Homo sapiens: one gene and its partners. The protein of the gene in region 1 purifies or fractionates together with the protein of each later gene. This does not show direct contact. Each region holds a gene or a part of one and is shown in the gene's direction. Other genes may lie near its edges.

What was found.
Region 2: the proteins of RNF10 (region 1) and LSM14A purify together in Homo sapiens (co-immunoprecipitation; one large-scale study listed by IntAct). This does not show direct contact.
Region 3: the proteins of RNF10 (region 1) and ATAD2 purify together in Homo sapiens (co-immunoprecipitation; one large-scale study listed by IntAct). This does not show direct contact.
Region 4: the proteins of RNF10 (region 1) and HAUS2 purify together in Homo sapiens (affinity purification with mass spectrometry; one large-scale study listed by BioGRID and IntAct). This does not show direct contact.

The regions. Positions count from the first base shown.
Region 1 is NC_000012.12:120,560,856-120,566,432, forward strand, and holds part of RNF10 (E3 ubiquitin-protein ligase RNF10), read left to right. Parts: coding exon 1-31; intron 32-2,089; coding exon 2,090-2,215; intron 2,216-2,476; coding exon of another isoform or gene 2,477-2,491; coding exon 2,492-2,768; intron 2,769-2,954; coding exon 2,955-3,088; intron 3,089-4,216; coding exon 4,217-4,334; intron 4,335-4,572; coding exon 4,573-4,674; intron 4,675-5,577. UniProt on the Homo sapiens protein: E3 ubiquitin-protein ligase that catalyzes monoubiquitination of 40S ribosomal proteins RPS2/us5 and RPS3/us3 in response to ribosome stalling.
Region 2 is NC_000019.10:34,175,240-34,180,299, forward strand, and holds part of LSM14A (protein LSM14 homolog A), read left to right. Parts: intron 1-5,060. UniProt on the Homo sapiens protein: Essential for formation of P-bodies, cytoplasmic structures that provide storage sites for translationally inactive mRNAs and protect them from degradation. Acts as a repressor of mRNA translation. May play a role in mitotic spindle assembly.
Region 3 is NC_000008.11:123,388,652-123,393,711, reverse strand, and holds part of ATAD2 (ATPase family AAA domain-containing protein 2), read left to right. Parts: intron 1-5,060. UniProt on the Homo sapiens protein: May be a transcriptional coactivator of the nuclear receptor ESR1 required to induce the expression of a subset of estradiol target genes, such as CCND1, MYC and E2F1.
Region 4 is NC_000015.10:42,551,574-42,556,633, forward strand, and holds part of HAUS2 (HAUS augmin-like complex subunit 2), read left to right. Parts: intron 1-5,060.

The DNA.
Region 1 (5,577 bases):
CTTTATTGAGGCAGCTATCCAGGAGCTCAAGGTGAGAGGATGCATTGGAGATGCTAAACCTTTTCACTTTCTCGGCGTTCTGTGGTGAAAACCAGAAATGCTAAACCTTTTCACTCTGTCGGGGGTGAGATGATGGACGCTGGGGATTAAGTTAGTTCCATTCCACATTTAAGACAATAAGCAGAGAATGGCTAAAAAAGCCAATTTGTTTTGGGCTTTGTTTGATGACAGTAGAGAAGGTTTAACCTAGGGCTTTTAAAGCTCTTTCTAGAGCTGAAAGGAGCAAGTCAAAATGATTTTATAACTAATTGTGACAGTGGAGTTTTTTAGATTAGCTATGTTCTTAAAGCAAGTTAGAGTTCTTTGTTTTCTGGGAAAATACTTAAGATTCTATTCTAGAGGTGTTTTGAAAGACATTGTGGAGAAAGTATTATGGCCTGCCCAGTATGCCTTAGGAGTACCTGAAACGGCAAGAATTACACAAGAACAGAATTCCCTGGGTCTTTTATCTTCCACAACAGAGATTCTTGAAGCATCACAACCACTGGTTGTTAGGTCCCACTTTGAGATATTGATTGCATAGGTTAAGCTCAGTAGGCTCAGTAATTTGCATATAACAAGTTCTAGGGTGATTCTGATGGCTGCTCATCCCCAGACCACACTCCTGGAACCACTGATCTAGCTTAGAGCAATAGAAGCCCATATTTATTGAGTGATCAGCATTTGATAGGACTTGTGCTATACACATTTATCTCACTTAAGCTTCTAGTGTGGTAGATAGAACTATCCCCTTTCATGGATGAGGAAACTGAATCCTGGGTTGGGTAATTTGCTAGTAAGGGATGCAGCTGGTATTTGAATTCCCTTCTCCCTGACTCCCAAGGGCTCCTTGGGTAGAGTCCTGTGTATTTAACTTTTGCTTTCTTTCTATAATACGTTGCAGCCGTATTTGTTCAAATGCCATTACAGGCATAAGAAAGGCTACATAGAATTAGAGCTGTCCAGGCTGAGGTGGAGTTAGCTAAATCCTTCCTACTACTCTGGACCTCTGTCTGAGCATAGTTTGTAAAAACTAGGTTAGTTTCATGTTCTTAGATTTCTGTTCTGGAAGTTTTTTGTATAGTGTTGTTTGTGTCAGATTCTCTTTTATTTTTTTTAACTTTTAAGTTCAGGGGTACAAATGCAGGTTGTTACATGGTAAACCTGTGTCATGGGGGTTTGTTATACAGATTTTCACCCAGGTATTAAGCTTAGTACCCATTGGTTATTTTTCCTGATCCCCTCCCTCCTCCCACTCTCCACCCTCTGATAGGCCTCAGTGTGTGTTCCCCTCTATGTGTCCATGTTTCATCATTTAGCTCCCACTTAGAAGTGAGAACATGTGTGCGATATTTGGTTTTTCTTTTTCTTTCTTTCTTTTTTTTTTTTTTTTTTTTGAGACAGAGTTTTGCTCTCGTTGCCCAGGCTGGAGTGCAGTGGCGTGATCTCGGCTCATCACAACCTCTGCCTCCAAGGTTCAAGTGATTCTCCTGCCTCAGCCTCCTGAGTAGCAGGAATTACAGGCATGCCCCACCATGCCTGGGTTATTTTGTATTTTTAGTAGAGATGGGGTTTCTCCATGTTGGTCAGGGTGGTCTTGAACTTCCAACCTCAGGTGATCCGCCCACCTCAGTCTCCCAAAGTGCTGGGATTACAGGCATGAGCCACCACACCTGGCCGTATGTGTCTTTACAGTAGAATGATTTATATTCCTTTGGCTATATACCCAGTAATGGGATTGCTGGGTGAAATTTTATTTCTGTCTTTAGGTCTTTGAGGAATCACCACACTGTCTTCCACAATGATTGAACTAATTTACACTCCCCAGTGTCAGATTCTAAGCAGATTCCAATCCTTAGTGGGTATTGCATGCTTTTTGCTTCCTGTTTCCCTCAAAGTTGAGATATTTAAGCACCTAATTCCTTCCCATTGGGTCTCATTGCCTTTTAACTTTTGGTCCTGTTGAGAGGCCATTCTAAGCCCTTGCCCTTCAAGCTAAGTGTGTGTCTGGAAACTTAACCTTCTCTGGTGTTCTCTCTGGCCACGTTAGACTCGGGAAGAGGCTCTGTCGGGATTGGCCGGAAGCAGAAGGGAGGTCACTGGTGTTGTGGCTGCTCTGGAACAACTGGTGCTGATGGCTCCCTTGGCGAAGGAGTCTGTTTTTCAACCCAGGAAGGTTAGTGTGTTCCTGTTACTAAGTGGCTGCCGTTCCTCAAATGCTGTCATTGAGCTGGTAGGCATTACTGTGAGATCTAAACCTTCTCAAGAGAAGAGGGGACAATGAGTATTTTCTGTATGCTTGTTATTAGTTCTTTCCCCAGGGGTGTTAAATCAGTGAACACGACAGCTAAGATAAACATCTAGGGAGCTTGGCTCTTAGGTCTGCATTTGCCACATTGCTTTCGGAAAGCAGGAGATATCCTTTCTGTTGACTTAGAGTTTGCTGCAACAGGGTGTGCTGGAGTATCTGTCTGCCTTCGATGAAGAAACCACGGAAGTTTGTTCTCTGGACACTCCTTCTAGACCTCTTGCTCTCCCTCTGGTAGAAGAGGAGGAAGCAGTGTCTGAACCAGAGCCTGAGGGGTTGCCAGAGGCCTGTGATGACTTGGAGTTAGCAGATGACAATCTTAAAGAGGGGACCATTTGCACTGAGTCCAGCCAGCAGGAACCCATCACCAAGTCAGGCTTCACACGCCTCAGCAGCTCTCCTTGTTACTACTTTTACCAAGGTGAGGGTGCCGGAAGAGAGGGCTGGGTTGCCGCAGAGGTGTTTCAGAGGTGACCCGGTGCTCTAAGCAGAGGAGCGCCACTAGATCCTGTGGCTTGGGTGGCTTGAGCCCTTGGGCATGGGGAGGGGTGGGGAGCCTCCTGGGGACTGGCCAAGACTGGTGTGTGATAGAGCCCCTTGTCCTCAGCGGAAGATGGACAGCATATGTTCCTGCACCCTGTGAATGTGCGCTGCCTCGTGCGGGAGTACGGCAGCCTGGAGAGGAGCCCCGAGAAGATCTCAGCAACTGTGGTGGAGATTGCTGGCTACTCCATGTCTGAGGTGAGGCCTTCCTGTAGAAATGGAGGGTCAGGCAGCAGTATTAACCTAATCTCTTTGAGGTAGGCCTAGCCATCCTAAGTTCACAAACCTTCAAGGCCTTTAGTTTTTGTATTTTTAGTCTTTCTGTCAGTGATGGTGCTGTGAATTCTTTGTAAGTGAAGTGTCCCCTCAGCATGCCAGGGTTCTGTTAAATCAGTTAATGCTGTTCCCTGCTTCTCTGGTTCATTGATTGTAGTTTGGGGATATAGATATTTCTTTTATTTAAGATGGAGTTTATTTTTGTTTCTTATCCTCCTTATTGCTTGGGAGAAATGTCACAAATTTGTTGTAAGATTTAAAATTAGACTCTTTGAGTACTATAAATTTTTCATCAAACATATGCAGAAAAAGAATAGAAATGAAAATAAATGGGCTGGATGTGGTAGCTCACACCTGTAATCCCAGCACTTTTGGGAGGCCTACTCAGGCAGATTGCTTGAGGCTAGGAGTTTCAGACCAGCCAGGGCATTTCTACAAAAAATACAAAAAAAAATTAGCTGGGTATGATGATGTGCACCTGTTGTCCCAGCTCCTCAGGAGGCTGAGGCAGAAGGATCACCTGAGCTGGGGAGATCAAGTCTGCAGTGAGCTGGCCTGGGCGGCAGAGCAAGACCATGTCTCAGAAAAAAAAAATTGGGCTTCATTTTCTACTATTTCAGGCCAAGTGTCTTTCAATAGGGAGATCTGCTTTATCTTCCTTCCCAGTTATTTATTCTGTCAGTGGTTCCCAGGTTTTTTTCTGTTCTGTTTTTCTGCCAACAAATAACTTTATCTTCTCTGTTCGTCCCCCTCAGCTGTGGGGCCTTGAAAAAATCAGAAACAGCTGATGGGCTTTAGATTATTTGTTGCTGGACTCAGTTCACTCCTTTGCAGTACAAACCAAAAATAACTGGATTTGGTTGCTTATTCCACCTTGCTGTAGGTTGACAGTTTCTCTTTGGCTTTTCAAAATGAGGATAATTGAGCACTACTGTTTCCAGCCCCAGTGCTGGCTGTGTTATGTATATATTGTTGGATATCGGGGTTAGGACCCCCTGCTTTCAGAGTTAGGCTTGCTTTTGTTGAGTATTGGTCCTTTTTCCAATGTAGGATGTTCGACAGCGTCACAGATATCTCTCTCACTTGCCACTCACCTGTGAGTTCAGCATCTGTGAACTGGCTTTGCAACCTCCTGTGGTCTCTAAGGAAACCCTAGAGATGTTCTCAGGTGAGAATGCCCCTGCTCTGCTTCTCTTTATAGTAGGGTTCAGGGATTCTTGTGGCTAGACACCCAGTGGGGGAGGAAACTTATGGAACTGTATCATGAGTCTTAGTACCTCCTAAACACTTCATCTGTTCATCTAGTCCAGCTGGGCCTACTGTTGTGGGTTTAGCTGCTAATACTGGGAGGAGGTAATGACCATGTTGTCCTGGGTCTACCTCTTTACAACCTGACCAATCTGCAGATGACATTGAGAAGAGGAAACGTCAGCGCCAAAAGAAGGCTCGGGAGGAACGCCGCCGAGAGCGCAGGATTGAGATAGAGGAGAACAAGAAACAGGGCAAGTGTAAGTTCAGGAACTTTCATCTTTGACTAGCACTGCTGTACGTCGTTGTATAGAACTCTGTGTCTGGGACCTGGGAGCCAGACCTTAGCCACTTGTTTTCTTCAACTTTTAAATGTGAATCATGAGAGCACCTCCTTAATAGGCTTGCTTGCAAATATAATGAGTTAATATGGGTCAAAGTGCCTAGCACATAGTAAGGATTAAGAGGAAATTCAGCCTTGGTAATAGTGGGTGATATACACCTGTTCCAGAGATGGGAATTGGGGCTTCGCTAAGAATGCTGGGGGCCATCGTTCCCCATGCTCTCTGGATCACTGACCTTACCTCTGACTCTTTATTAAAGGGACCAGCTATACACAGCAAGTCTGCCAGGTGGGTCTGATAAGATGGAAATTTTGATAGACTAGGAAATGCAGGAAGTTGGATTTAAGAGATCTTTCGTAGCAGTAAGCACAGCCTTTTGATCTGGTTCTCCAAAATAAGTTTCATTGAATCCAGGGGATTAGTGTGACCTGAGGTCCCATTATCCACTAGAACACAAGGAACTGAGTCCTTGGCCCAGAAAAGGACTTCGGTGTTTTGACTCCATATGGCATGGAAACATACATTTTATATCTCAAGTGGGACAAGTGTATACTTGGGGTCCCAACACCGTGTAGGTGTTTGGCACATGTCCTGAACTTTGAGAAAACTGATATTTCAGGAATAGGATTTTTTGTTTTCACCTTTTTATTATGGAAATATCAAGACAAGTAGAACAATGTAATTAACCTGCATGTTTGTTACCCAGCCTCAATTATGAATAGTTAGAACAAGGTTAACTATATTAAAGACATTATAGAAGGACAGTTATTGTAAATTTGGGTTTTAGCTTTTGTCTGCATCCTCTAGACCTTTGGGGGT
Region 2 (5,060 bases), on another chromosome or scaffold:
TTTCTTTTTGAGATGGCGTCTCACTCTGTTGCCCAGGCCGGAGTGCAGTGGCACAATCCTGGCTCCCTGTAACCTCTGCCTTCCAAGTTCAAGCAATTCTCCTGCCTCAGCCTCCTGAGTAGCTGGGATTACTGGCGCGTGCCACCACGCTTGGCTAATTTTTGTATTTTTTAGTTGAGACAGGCTTTCACCATATTGGCCAGGCTGGTCTTGAACTCCTGACCTCAAGTGATCCACCTGCCTCAGCCTCCCAGAATGCCGGGATTACAGGCATGAGCCACCGCACCCGGCTGCTTTTTCTTAAGCAACATGAGTTAAATGTGTAACCAGTTTGGGGAATTTGATTATGTTCGCAAAAACTGACATTATCAAACCTTTATATATTAGTCTACATGATATTATCTAATCGAAAACTACATTATAACTGTCTAGTCAATACTGGACACATTTCAGATTTCAAGATTAGAAGCAAGGAGTTCAATCTTAAAATTTTAAAATTTACATGACTTGTTGAGTAATTCGATATCAGAAAATTTCACCTTCCATTTCAAAATTTGAACGAAGAATGGTAGTCTAAAAGATTAAAGCCAAAAGTGTTTGTTTTGTTTTGTTTTCGTTTTTTTTTGTTGTTGTTTTGAGACAGAGTCTTGCTCTTGCCCAGGCTGGAGTGCAGTGGTGCGATCTTGGCTCGCTGCAGCCTCCACCTCCCGGGTTCAAGCAGTTCTGCCACAGCCTTCCGAGTAGCTGGGACTACAGGCGCCCAACACAGCTGGCTAATTTTTGTATTTTGAGTAGAGACGGGGTTTCACCATGTTGGCCAGGCTGGTCTCAAACTCCTGACCTCAGATGATCCACCCACCTTGGCCTCCCAAAGTGCTGGGATTACAGGTGTGAGGCACTGCACCCGGCCTGAAGCCAAAAGTTTATTCATGGAATTTATAATACAGTGTGTATTTGGATGTAGAGATCCCTGTTACTGTTTTTAAACTATGGATTAAGAGTTAATCTCTTTGAGTAACAGTCTTAGCATTCTCTTTTGAACTTTTTTTTTTTTAATTTCTCAGGGAGAGTGTTATTGGGAAACCTAACTACACAGGCTGAAAAGATACATAAGATAAAAATGAAATATTTTTAAACAAACATCTTTGTAACCACCACCCAGGGCAAGACAGACATTGCCAGCATCCCAGAAGCCTCCCACCACCTATATTTTCCCATCACAACTATCACCATCTTAATTTAAGCTAGATATAAATGTTCTTCTGACATTTATAGTTTTACCATATAAGTTTACATCTCTAAATAATAGAGTTTAATTTTGCCCATTTTTAACTTTATGTAAATAGGATTGTGTTGTATATATTTTATTTTTAGCTTTTATTGTTTCATAATATTCCATCATGAATATAACACAAGTTTATTCCTTCTGCCATTGTTTTGGATATTGCATTTAGATTGTTTGCAGTTTGGGGCTATTATAAACAATGCTTTTATGAACATTTCTGTTTAAGTGCACTGGTGCATGTTTATTTCGTTTTCTTGAGATTATATACTTAGAATTTGAATTGCAAGAACATGGGGAATGTTGGTCTTTATCAGGTAATGCCAGGTAGTTTTTCAAAGTAGTTGTTTAGTGGTTTTTACTTCATTTATTAGTATGTAAGAGTTCTTGTTTCATATCCCTTACCAACAACCGTACGTGGTATCATATATTTCAATTCTAGCCAATCCTGGTGGGTATGTAGTTGTATTTAGTTTTAATCATTTCCCTCATTACTAAATGGGGCTGACCAGCTTTTCATATCTGGGTGTTTGGATTTCATTTTTCATAAAATGCCTTTGAAATCTTTTCCTTTTTTAAATCGAAACACGTCTTTTTCTAGAGTTCTGTATTCTGAATATATCTCCATTGTTGGATGTATATATTGCAAACATTTTTTCCATTTAGTAGTTTCTTTAAATTAACAGAAGTTCTTCATTTTAATGTAAACATGTTCATCAGTTTTTTATGGCTAGTGTTTCTTTTTTTAAAACATCATAGAGATACTTTGATTATCTTTAAACCTTTTTGTGCTTTGCTTTTTCACATTGACGTTTATAATGCATCTGAAATTGATTTTGTGTACAATGTGAGATATTCAGAGCTTTATATTTAGTAAGGGATTCACTTGGTTTATATTGTCCATATTATAATTTAGGGCTTGGATATTATAATTTAAATATATCTGGAACTATAAACTACTCTTGAAATTTTTGGCTATTTACATTTGATGTGGTATATAATTAGGGTAACCATATGGCCTAGTTTGCCCTGGTGGAAAGTCCTTGTTTGTGCCTGCTCTGGCATAATTATTAAAAACATCCCGGCTGGGCAGGGTGACTCAGGCCTGTAATCCCAACATTTCCAAAAGGTCAAGGCCGGGGTATTGCTTGAGCCCAGGAGTTCAAAACCAGCCTCGGCAATACAGGGAGACTCCATTTCTACAAAAAATTTTAAAAAGTGCATTAGCCAAGCATGGTGGCATGCATGTCTGTCGTCCCAGCCACTTGGGAGGCTGAGGCAGGGGGATTGCTTGAGCCCAAGAGGAGCTGTGATCATGCCACTGCACTCCAGCCTGAAACATAGAACAAGACCTTGTCTTAAAAAATAACAATGATAGCCTGTAATCCCAGCACTTCAGGAAGCTGAGGCAGGCGAATCACCTGAAGTCAGAAGCTCGAGACCAGTCTGGCCAACATGGCGAAACCCCGTCTCTACTAAAAATACAAAAATTATCTGGGCGTGCTGGTGCATGTCTGTAATCCCAGCTACTTGAGAGGCTGAGGCAGGAGAATTGCTTGAACCTGAAAGGCGGAGGTTAGAGTGAGCCAAGATCACACCACTGTACTCTAGCCTGGGCAACAGAGCGAGACTCTGTCTCAAAAAAAAAAAAAACACAAAATAATAATAATAATCTGTTTTCTCTTTTGAAAATGTTTCAGTGTGGATAAGTTATCACACCACATAATCAAAAGCCTAATTGCAGAGGTGCTGTGAAATGGTCGATGTGCCTTATTTTCTGCTAGAGATGTCACAGACTAGCTTTAGTTCTAGAAAGTGAAACAGGTAAGTTTGAGGGGCTTTGATCCTCGGAACCTAAGCATATGTCAAGAAGTCATAAAGGCAACCTAGAAAGGCTTTGATGTCAATCTGCTATGTATGTTTATAGATGATCTGTGTTGCAGTTTGTTTCTGCAGTTTGTTGCAGTTTGTAGTCTGTGTCACAGCTCTGAATTTATTTTCTTCTCAGCACTGATCATGACTTACACTTAATCTTCTTTGCTTATTTGCATATGTGTTTATTGTCTGTCTTCACCTTCCCCTTCACCTCCAGACTCTGAGCTCCTGGTATGAAAGGTTGTTTAGTTAGTGAGTAAATGGAAATGATTTAGCATTTTAGCTTATTGTTCTTGTAGAAGTATCTTGGGTATACCTCCAAATAATGCTTTTCCATGTTCACAATTGCATTTCCCTATAAAATTAAATTATCCTGCCTCACATTAAGAAATCTTGAAGAATTTCAGTGAGTAGGGATGCAAGAGGATGAAATCTAGTGACATAATTAACATTATTGGGGAGGTAAACTCTTTGTGACTCAAGCTCAATTATAATTTTCATTTAAAGTTTAAAGGAAGCCTCCATTCAGGGTGTAGGAAGAAATTACACAGTGGTGACATGTATGAATATTTTATGGAATAGTTCCAGTTGTGTTTGCACCTACGTCTATAAGTGAGTAGGATGCCTAAATAGGCTAAAATGAATGAAATTCTTATAAAAAATAAATTCTTACATTTAGTTAGCTTACCTGGATAATCATTCAAATGGAAACCAGGTTGCTACTGCACTGGGAAAAGAGACTTTATGAAGAACGATTATATAAGCCACTTGCCTTTAAAATAAGTTGTTCTTAAAATCAAGAGATTGGTGGAAGAATAGAAAAACAAGTAAATTGTTAACAGATTTCTTTAATCATCTGCTAAGTCTGGCTCATTGGCATAATTTATCTACTTCTTGATGTTAGTCACATAGTCATAAACTATTACCTTATTGGAGAGAGTGGAAGAGCTTTGTGTGATGGATAAAATACTTGCGGGGTGCTTTATTTGATTTCTTGCATTACTTGGGGATCTAAATCTAGCAATTCACAAAATTACTATCTAAAATGACAAAGATCTAGTGAAACTTCAAGCCACAGTTTCTTTTTGTTGCCCTATTTAGTGATGTTGCCAGTACTTGGAGCCTTGGAAACAGTTTATTATTGTTACATAGTCCGCAGAAATACTTGGTAATTCTGGGAGTCTGAAGTCAGGTGCCAGAAACTGTTCATTTTCTAGTAGGGGTAAGTAAGGTAAGCCATGATTTTCTAAGTCGGAAGTAAAGAAAACAGCATAAAACTGAAGAAAAAAAATAGTAGAAGGAAGGAAGTAGGAAGAAAAAAGAAATCTTATCTGTGCATGATACATAGCAGGAGTTTTGTATTTAACTCAGTGCCACAGTAATAATAGCAGTAACTACAGATAGTTTAACTTGAATTTAATTATTCCGTGCTAGAAGATGCTTGCTATAGAAACAATTTGTCTTTCTCTCATGATGCTATAAAATAATATATTAATTAGCTGTTTTAAAAACTAGATACCATTGAAGTAAATTTTGTTGTTGTTGTTTTGAGACAAGAGTCTCACTCTGTTGCCCAGGCTGGAGTGCAGTGGCACGATCACAGCCTTGACCTCCCTGGGCTCAGGTAATCCTCCTGCCTCAGCCTCCCAAGTAGCTGGGACCACAGGCACACACCACCACACCCAGCTAATTTTCTGTTTTTTGTAGATACAGGGTTTTGCCATGCTGCCCAGGTCGGTCTCTAACTCCTGGGCTCAAGTGATCTGCCTGCCTTGGCCTCCCAAAGTGCTGGGATTACAGGTGTGAGCCACAGTGTCTGGCTTGAAGTAAGTTTTTTAGTGGACAAAGTGTGAGTTGGTCTGTAAAATAATTTATTCCCAAGGGCCTTATTCTAGTTTTGTAG
Region 3 (5,060 bases), on another chromosome or scaffold:
CTCCCGGTCTCAGGTGATCGGCCCACCTCAGCCTCCCGAAGTGCTGGGATTACAGGCATGAACCACCGCGCCTGACCATCTTTCCTGGATTATAATAGATTCTTGATTGGCCTCCTTCCCGTTTTCCACTGTTTGATATATATATTATGCCCCACCTTCCCTCAACAGTCAGTTCTCTTTATTTATGCATTTATTTATTTTTGAGACAGAGTCTTGCTCTGTCACCCAGGTTAGAGTGCAGTGGCACCAACGTGGCTCACTGCAGCCTCAACCTCCCAGGATCAAGTGATTCTCCACCTCAGCCTTCTAAGTAGCTGGAACTACAGGGGCTCGCCACCACACCCAGCTCATTTTTAAGTTTTTTGTAGCAATGGAGTCTCACTATGTTGCTCAGGCTGGTCTCGAACTCCTGGACTCAAGCAATCCTTCAGTTTCAGCTTCCCAAATTGCTGGGATTAAAGGTGTGAACCACCACGCCCCACCAATAGTCAGTTCTTAATGCAGTGAATCTTTTTTTTTTTTTTTTTGAGATGGAGTTTCGCTCTGTCACCCAGGCTGGAGTGCAGTGGCCCAATCTCGGCTCACTGCAAGCTCCACCTCCCGGGTTCACGCCATTCTCCTGCTTCAGCCTCCCGGAGTAGCTGGGACTACAGGCACCCGCCAACACGCCTGGCTAATTTTTTGTATTTTCAGTAGAGACAAGGTTTCACCGTGTTGGCCAGGGTGGTCTCGATCTCCTGACTTCATGATCCGCCCTCCTCGGCCTCCCAAAGTGCTGGGATTAGAGGCGTGAGCCACCGCGCCCAGCAAATGCAGTGAATCTTTTAAAAAGTCAAAACAGTTGATCACTTAAAACCCTCTTGAGACTCCCTATCTAAGTAAAAGTCTGTAAGTTTGGAAGCAGCCCTAAGCATCCCTGCATCCTTTATAATGACATCTTTTTCTACCCCTTTACAAAACGCACTCTATTCCAGCCACACTGGCATAGCTGCTTCTTTAATACCAGGGCCTTTCCATTTGGTATACCTCTGCTGGAAATACTCTTCCCCTTGATATCTGCATGACCCATTCTTTTAACTTTTTTTTTTTTTTACATTATTTTAAACTAAAAAACAAAACCTCAGGAATTATAGTACTTTAGTGTGGTCCAGAAATTGTACAAATAAATAACTCAGTCCTTACAACCTTATGAGGTAGGTAAGATTTTTTTTTTATGAGAAAACTGATGCACAGAGACTTAAATAAATTGCCCAAATTCACCTTATAGTAAGCTGTGTGACTATGATTCAAATTTAGGAGTCTGTCTACCTCAAGTCTTTGCTAAAATTTCACCTTTGCAATGATGTTTACCATAAGCACCATATTTAAAATTACAAACCACTCTCCTGACATGCCTCTCCTAGCACTTGTCACCTTCCAACATTTTCTGTACTTTTCTATTTTTAAGTATTTTTCTCTCTTCCCCAATCAGAATGTAACTGCACGGGGACTTGGATTTTGACTTTTTTTTTGGCAATGTTATCCCAGCACTTAGAACAGAACCTAGCAGGAAGTAAGTGTATATTAAATATTTGTTGTTGATTGTTCTTACTCTAAAGAGATACAAGTCTAGCAGAGGAGACCTAACAGCAATATACAGAGACTATTTGCCATAAATCCCGTATTTGTGGTATATGGTGGTTGAGCAATTAGAATGCACTCTGCTGGATGTTGTAGGGTAGAAAGGATCCCCCTCAACCCCCACCACAGTTCCCAGCAGGCATTATACCTTTTTGAGACAAAGTTCTCCTCCCTTTTATACATCAAGGTGTCTGTGTAGACCAAATTATAATCACAGTGTTACATAATGAGCATGGGATTGGATTAAAATAAATCGGTGGTCTTTAGGGGTAATGTATTCATACTGACAAGCCCATCAGTACCAAAAATGAAACATGCCTCTGTAATTGGAATATTTTCTGATTTGGGGGCTTTACATTCAATACATTTGGTTGGATTACACCTTGCTGTTTTACATCAATCATGCATTTCAGAGACTTCACTCCCTGATCACCCTGATTATATTTGGATATTTCTTAGTTTCCTCAGCCACATATTTATTGACAGAGCATTTCTTAGGCTAGGCTGCTTTTATGGGTGGTTACATTTATTCATTTAATTCATTAACTTGAATTTTTCCTAGTCTAATCTCAGGCTGACCTTTTTTTTTTTTTTTTTTTTTTTTTTCAAAACTTCTCATTACCTCTGATCAGGCTGATCTTATCTTCAAGTTCTGAAGTTACTTTTAGTCACCTATTTATTAACTACATTGTATTTTTATATTTTGAATATGTTCTCATTCAGCTGGGCTTATAGATTTGTGTTTTTGTTTTTTCCTGACTTGTATGGGTTCCCTGAATATTGTGGTGGTGGTGGTCTAAGTTTGTTTTTTGTTGTTTTTTTAAAACTTCTATTTTCATCCTACCAACTTTATGACTATGGATATCTTTTCTGTAGTTTCTTTTTCTTCCAGAATCAGAGTAGCCATTGTCTATTTCTGTACTTTCTTTGTTTTCTAAGGTCTGAGGTTCTTTGGTTTCTGTAAATTTAGGGTTGTTTCTCATGTTGAAGAGTCACTTAAGGATGGATAGTAGGGTGTTTTTTTTAAATTGATGATGATCGTACATTACTTTTGGGTTTTTTTTTTCTTTTGAGACTGTGTTTTGCTTTTGTCGCCCAGGCTAGAATGCAGTGGCGCAATCTCTGCTCACTGCAACCTCTGCCTCGTGGATTCAAGCAATTCTCCTGCCTCAGCCTCCGGAGTAGCTGTAAGCGCCTTCCAATTACAGGCGCCTGCCACCATGCCCAGCTAATTTTTGTATTTTTAGTAGAGACGGGGTATCAAACTCCTGACCTCAGGTGATCCACCTGCCTTGGCCTCCCAAAGTCTGGGATTACAGGCGTGAGCCACTGCGCCTGGCCTACTTTTGGGTTGTTTACCTACATTTTTACTTTTCTGTGTGTTAGGTAAAATAGAACATTCTGCAGTATGTAGAAGGTACTATTTTAAAAATTGTATGTTTATTTGAAAGTCTGGAAAGATACTCAAAACTCAACACCAATATGTGTAACATACAGGAGATTTTAAAAACTTAAAGCATAACACAGTACAGAAACATGAAAAGTATATAGCTTAATGAAGTATCACAAAGCATAGATAGGGAGCTTCTGGGTGTGGCAGTGAATGGTGTTCCCTGGAATTGGGTGACATGGCAGTTCTGTATTCAGTCATAAGCAAGAAAGGGCCCTTGATTTTAGGTTTAGAGGTTACAGCTTTATGTGGGAGACAGTGAAGAGCTAGAACAGGGATCTGATGAGACAGTGTTTCGGATGGATTATAGTTAACAAAAACCTAGAGCTAAGAAGACCAGTTAAAAGATTATAATGGTAGTCTGGGTGCAGTGGCTCATGCCTGTAATCCTAGCACTTTGTTTGGGAGGCCGAGGCAGGCATATCACCGGAGATCAGAAGTTCAAGACCAGCCTAGCCAACATGGTGAAATCCCGTCTCTACTAAAAATACAAAAATTAGCCGGATGTGGCAGTGTGCACCTGTAATCCAAGGTGCCGGGGAGGCTGAGGCAGGAGAATTGCTTGAACCCTGGAGGCAGAGGTTGCAGTGAGCCGAGATTGCGCCATTGCACTCCAGCCTGGGCAAGAGAGCAAGACTCTGTCTAAAAAAAAAAAAATATATATATATATATATATATATAAAATAATAGTAATAGCTACCACTTATATAGCAGTTGCTGTGTACCAGGCATAGTACTTGATAAGACACATATATTTCTCCTGTTTATAAACTATTATTATCCTCATTACTAGATTCTTAGTATCTAGTATCCATATACTAAGTATTCTAGATTCCTAGATCCTTAGAGTTTAAGTTAAGGTGGTATTAGTAGGAATGGAGAAAAATGTCCAATAATACAGCACAGGATCTGAGAGTTGTTTGAACACAGGGAGGGAAGACGTTGTTTCCAGCTAAAGAAGTGAGCAGTAGACCATTGGGAGTTTTGTTTTGTTTTGTTTTTGAGACGGAGCCTTGCTCTGTCGCCCAGGCTGAAGTGCAGTGGCGCGATCTGGGCTCACTGCAAGCTCCTCCTTCTGGGTTCACGCCATTCTCCTGCCTCAGCCTCCTGAGTAGCTGGGACTACAGGCGCCCGCCACCACGCCCGGCTAAGTTTTTGTATTTTTAGTAGAGACTGGGTTTTCACCGTGATAGCCAGGATGGTCTCAATCTCCCGACTTCGTGATCCGCCCGCCTTGGCCTCCCAAAGTGCTGGGATTACAGATGTGAGCCACCACGCCCGGCCGACCATTGGGAGTTTTATGCCAGAATTGCTAAGAGGTTGGGACTGCTTGTCCTTGAGGATGAATAGAAAACAGCAAAGCACAGGCCGGGCACGGTGGCTCACACCTGTAATCCCAGCACTTTGGGAGGCCAAGGCGGGCGGATCAGGAGGTCAGGAGATCGAGACCATCCTGGCTAACACGGTGAAACCACATTTCTACTAAAAATACAAAAAAAAAAAAAAAATTAGCCGGGCGTGGTAGCAGGCTCCTGTAATCCCAGCTACTTTAGAGGCCGTGGCAGGAGAATGGCGTGAACCCAGGAGGCGGAGCTTGCAGTGAGCCAAGATCGCGCCACTGCACTTCAGCGTGGGCGACAGGGCGAGACTCTGTGTCAAAAAAAAAAAAGAGAGAGAAGAAAACAGCAAAGCACAAAAAGAATTAAGGAGGTCTGAAGCAATGCCTGTATTTTAAAGGTGAGAAGTTGAATCATGGAACTAAGAGTATTAAGTAAACCAAGGGACCGAAGCATTTTAAGAAAGTACTGGCCAGGCACAGTGGCTCACACTTCTAATCCCAGCACTTTGGGAGGCCAAGGTGAGAGGATCACCTGAAACCAGAAGTTCGAGACCAGCCTGAGCAACATAGTGAGACCACCCCCCCGCCCCCACCATCTCTAAAATAAAAAATAAAAATTGGCTGGGCATGGTGGCTCACACCTGTAATCCC
Region 4 (5,060 bases), on another chromosome or scaffold:
GAGATTGCAGTGAGCAAAGATCGTGCCACTGCACTCCAGCCTGGGTGACACAGTAAGACCCTGTCTCAAAAAAAAACAACCCCCCAACTTTTGGTACTTGGTATCCCTCTAAAGAGCATTGGTAGGAAATACAAATGCCTAAACCAAAGGAGTAAGGCACTGGTGACAGAATTTCAGGCATTGATGGGTGAACTCTTTTTTGGGGGTGGTGGTTGTCTTGGGGGTGTCTACTGTCTCTCAAGTAACATTAATTAGACAGTTACTGGTTTTACCTACAGTTAACATGTCCCACTCCATAGCTCCTTAAGATCCCACTCCATAGCTCCTTAAGACTTCTGACAACCTTACTACACAGCTAGTCCCAATGAGGGAGCTATTTACAGACTTGTAGGTTGGTTTTACTTTAAGCAAACTTTATACATAAAAACTTTTGTCTCTTTTTTTTTGTTTTTTTTGTTTTTTTCCCTGAGACAGAGTCTCACTCTGTTGCCCAGGCTGGAGTACAGTGGCACAATCTTGGCTCACTGCAACCTCCGCCTCCTTGGTTCAAGCAATTCTCCTGCCTCAGCTTCCTGAGTACCTGAGATTACAGGCGCGCACCACCACGCCCGGCTAATTTTTTTAATTTTTAGTAGAGATGGGGTTTCACCATATTGGTCAGGCTGGTCTCGAACTCCTGACCTCAAATGATCCACCCGCCTCGGCCTCCCAAAGTGCCGGGATTACAGGCATGAGCCACTACACCCAGCCAAAAACCTTTTCCTATTAGAAGGATTTAGCATTGATTCTTTCAAAATGATTTGTCACGTCATCCCTTCAAACAGCCCATCCCTTTAATGCACATCATTTTTTGTGCATTAAAAATTAAGACTATTGAGTTCCTGCTGGCAAGGATTTTTTAAAAATTGAGTGATTCCTAAAATTGTGATTTGATACAACTCTTCTAGAAAACATAGCTTGTTTGAAGTTTTGTTTCAATCTGTTAGAGAGTGATTTGGTGAAAGAAAGGTAGGGCTATCTGTAGGATAATGGGGTATTGCTTTAGTTTATTCCCCTAGGGACTGCTTTAGTGGCCTTACATTCTAGATATTTTTCCAGCAAGTGTGAGTGAGTCATGGAGTCTTGACCAAAGCTTGATCATTGCTTATTGGCAATTAATAAGATCAGGGTCTGGATCTACCAAAAAACCCACAGAATCTACTAATTCTGTTTTCTTAACTTGTGTCCTACTCTCCTCTATACCTCTTCTCCCATTTGAGAGCCTCTGCTCTTAAATTCTCTGCTATACTACCTCCCTTTTAATGTCCCTCAGCTAGAATTCAGTATGAAAAGGAAGGGATAGGAAAAAGAAGAAAGAGTGCCCACCAATTACAAGTTTATACATACATATATGGTATATAATGTTACCAGGATTTTTTTTTTTTTTTTTTGAGATGGAGTTTCGCTCTTACTGCCCAGGGTGGAGTGCAATGGCACGATCTCAGCTCACCACAACCTCCGCCTCCCGGGTTCAAGCAATGCTCCTGCCTCAGCCTCCCAAGTAGCTGAGATTACAGGCACATACCACCACGCCCGGCTAATTTTTGTATTTTTAGTAGAGACGGGGTTTCACCATGTTGGTCAGGCAGTTCTCGAACTCCTGACCTCATGATCCACCTGCCTCGGCCTCCCAAAGTGCTGGGATTACAGGCCAGGATTTTTATATTAAGTATAAAGGTTCTGGATTTGAGCTTCTTCTTGTGCCTAGCCACGGAATAAACAGAAATACCCTGAATAGACTCCTTTTTCTCAGGATCCTTTCATTTTCAGGGTTCTTTTGCCCTTTGGGGCATGTAATAGCAATATATAGTAACAATAGCTAAAGGAAAAGACTTTTCTGTATTCCCCAATCCCTGATACTTTTTTCTTTTTTTTTTTAAATGTGTTAAACTAAGTCTCAATCCTCAAATAGTTGTACTTCCTATTTATTATGGAAAATAAGCCTCCACCTCCCTAAGTGCAGGGATTACAGGTGAGAGCCACTGCACCTGACCCTCTTTCTTTCTTCTCTCCTTTTTTGTTATCTGCTTCTTAAACATTCTTATTTTTCCTCTGGTTTCTCTTGCATGTTCTTAGCTAAGCACCATTACTCTATTGTTGAACCCGACAGTTTACTAGTTTGCCAGATGTACAACTAAGATTAGTGTGTAAGCATGGAGAGAGGGAGATATACCAGTGAACAGGTTGGTTACAATGTGATAAATTGTAGAAAATATTTTACTTTCATTTACCTCCTGAGAGAAACAAAGAAAAAAGGGTCAGCTGATATGATGGAAGGGCAGTGGATTAGATGTGTTCTCACTTCCATCTTGGCACACACTGGCAGTGTGAAGTTGGAGTAATACTTTCCTGTTCCTCAATTTTGCCATCAGTAAAATATCTTGTGTTATCTACTTCAGTGAATGGCATAACTCTGTCCACTCACCTGAAGCAAAATCCTTAGAGTATTAACTGGATTTTATCCCTTACCATATCAACTAAGATTTGTCAATTCCATCTTTGCAGGAACTCCCATCTTTTCTTCCTTTCCTTTTTAACTGTTACTGACCTAGTCCACATTCTCATCCTTACCTGGAATACTGTAGCAGCCACCTGTTTAAATATCCAACCTCTCCAGTCTATTTCTCCACTAGTGTTTTTTCTTTATGTTAGCTAGTTACCAGGGTTTTCCTTCTTTTTTTTTTATTGTGGTAAAATACATATAACATAAAATTTACTATTTTAACTGTCTTAAAATGTACACTTCAGTGGCATTTACTATACTCAATATTGTGCAACTATTTTCAAAAACATCTTTATCACTCCAGATGTAAACTCTGTACTATTCCCTATTCCCTCCTCCCTCTTCATTAGTGTTTTTATTTTGTTTGTTTTGTAGGTGTATTTTTTTTTTTTTAAGAGAGAGTCTCTCTGTGTTGTTCAGGCTGGAGTGCAGTAGTGCGCTCACAGCTTACTGCAGCCTCAGCCTCCTGGGCTCAAGTGATTCTCCCATCTCAGCCTCCCTAGTAGCTGGGATTACAGGCATATGTCATCATGCCTGGCTGATTTTTGTATTTTTAGTAGAGACAGGGTTTCACCATGTTGGCCAGGCTGGTCTCCAACTTCTGATCTCAGGTGATCTACCCCCTCGGCCTCCCAAAGTGCTGGGATTACAGGTGTGAGCCACCACGCCCAGCCAGTTTTATTTTTCATACTGCCCCAGTTAAATATCCCCACCTTCCCCGCCGCCGCTGAGACAGGGTCTCACTCTGTTGCCCAGGCTGGAGTTGCAGTAGCATGATCACAGCTCACTACAGCCTCAATCTCCCAGGCTCAAGGGATCTTCCCACCCCAGCCTCCCAAGTAGCTGGGACTATAGGCACATGTCACCATGCCTGGCTAATTTTTTTTTTTTTTGAGACAGAGTCTCTCTCTGTCATCAGGCTGGAGTGCAATGGCGTGATCTCTGCTCACTGCAACCTTCGCCTCCTGGGTTCAAGCGATTCTCCTGTCACAGCCTCCCGAGTAGCTGGGACTACAGGCACGCCACCACACCCAGCTAATTTTTGTATTATTAGTAGAGATGGGGTTTCACCATGTTGGCCAGGATGGTCTCGATCTCCTGACCTCGTGATCTGCCCACCTCGGCCTCCCAAAGTGCTGGGATTACAGCCGTGAGCCACGGCGCCCGGCTGCCTGGCTAATTTTTTTAATTTTTTGTAGAGACAGGGTCTCCCTGTGTTGTGCAGGCTGGTCTCAAACTCCTGGGCTCAAGCAGTTCTCCTGCTTTAGCCTTCCAGAGTGCTGGGATTACAGGTGTGAGCCATCATGCCAGCCTGTATTTCTAAATAAGTATTATGTATGATTATATTACTTCTTCACCAGAAAATGTTCAGTTGCTCCCATTTTCTGCAGTATGATTGTTGAGCATAGCACTCAGGATCATCTATGATTATGTTGGAGACTATGTTTTCAGCTACATCTTACCCCTCTTTTCACATATATGCTAACACTGGTGGTTATTGAGCATTTGTAATGTTTTTGATCTTTCTATCTAGAATACCTTTTTCTTCCCATCCATTATGAGCCTCATGAGGGTAGAGAGCTTGTTTCACTCATATTTGAATATTTCGTTGACTAACTCAGTAAGTGTTCATAAAATTGATTATTTTTGGACAGTAAACTTTTACTATGAAGAGCCAGAGAGTAAATATGTAAGGCTTTGTGGGCCATATGGTTGCAGCTACACAACTAGGTGGTTGTATAAAAGCAGCCAGAGATAGTGTGTAAATGGATGAGAGAAGTCATGTTCCAATAAAACTTTATTTCTGGACCATGAAATTTGAATTTCAGATCATTTTCTTTTCTTTTTTAAGACGGAGTTTCGCTCTGTCACCCAGGCTGGAGTGCAGTGGCGCGATCTCGGCTCACTGCAACCTCTGCCTCCCAGGTTCAAGCAATTCTCCTGCCTCAGCCTCCCAAACTAGCTGACTAGCTGGGATTACAGGCGCCTGCCACCACGCCTGGCTAATTTTTTTTTTTTTTTTTTGAATAGAGACAGAGTTTCACCATGTTGGCCAGGCTGGTCTCAAACTCCTGACCTCAGGTAATCCACTTGCCATGGCCTCCCAAAATGTTGGGATTACAGGTGTGAGCCACTGCGCCCAGGCTTTTTTTTTTTTTTTTTTTTTTTGAGACAGGGTCTCACTCTGTCGCCCAGACTAGAGTGCAGTGGCAATCTCAGCTCACCACAACCTTGTCTCCTAAGCTCAAGCAATTCTCCTGCCTCAGCCTCCCGAGTAGCTGGGATTACAGGTGTGCACCACTCCTGCCTGGCTAATTTTTGTATTTTTAGTAGAGACGGGGTTTCACCATGTTGTCCAGGCTGGTCTTGAACTCCTGACCTCAAATGATCTACCCACCTCGGCCTCCAAAGTTCGGGATTACGGGCATGAGCCACTGTGCCCAGCCTGTTATAAAATATTGTCTTTGATTTTCTTTTTCCCAACAATTTGAAAATATAAAAACCATGCCTGGTTCAC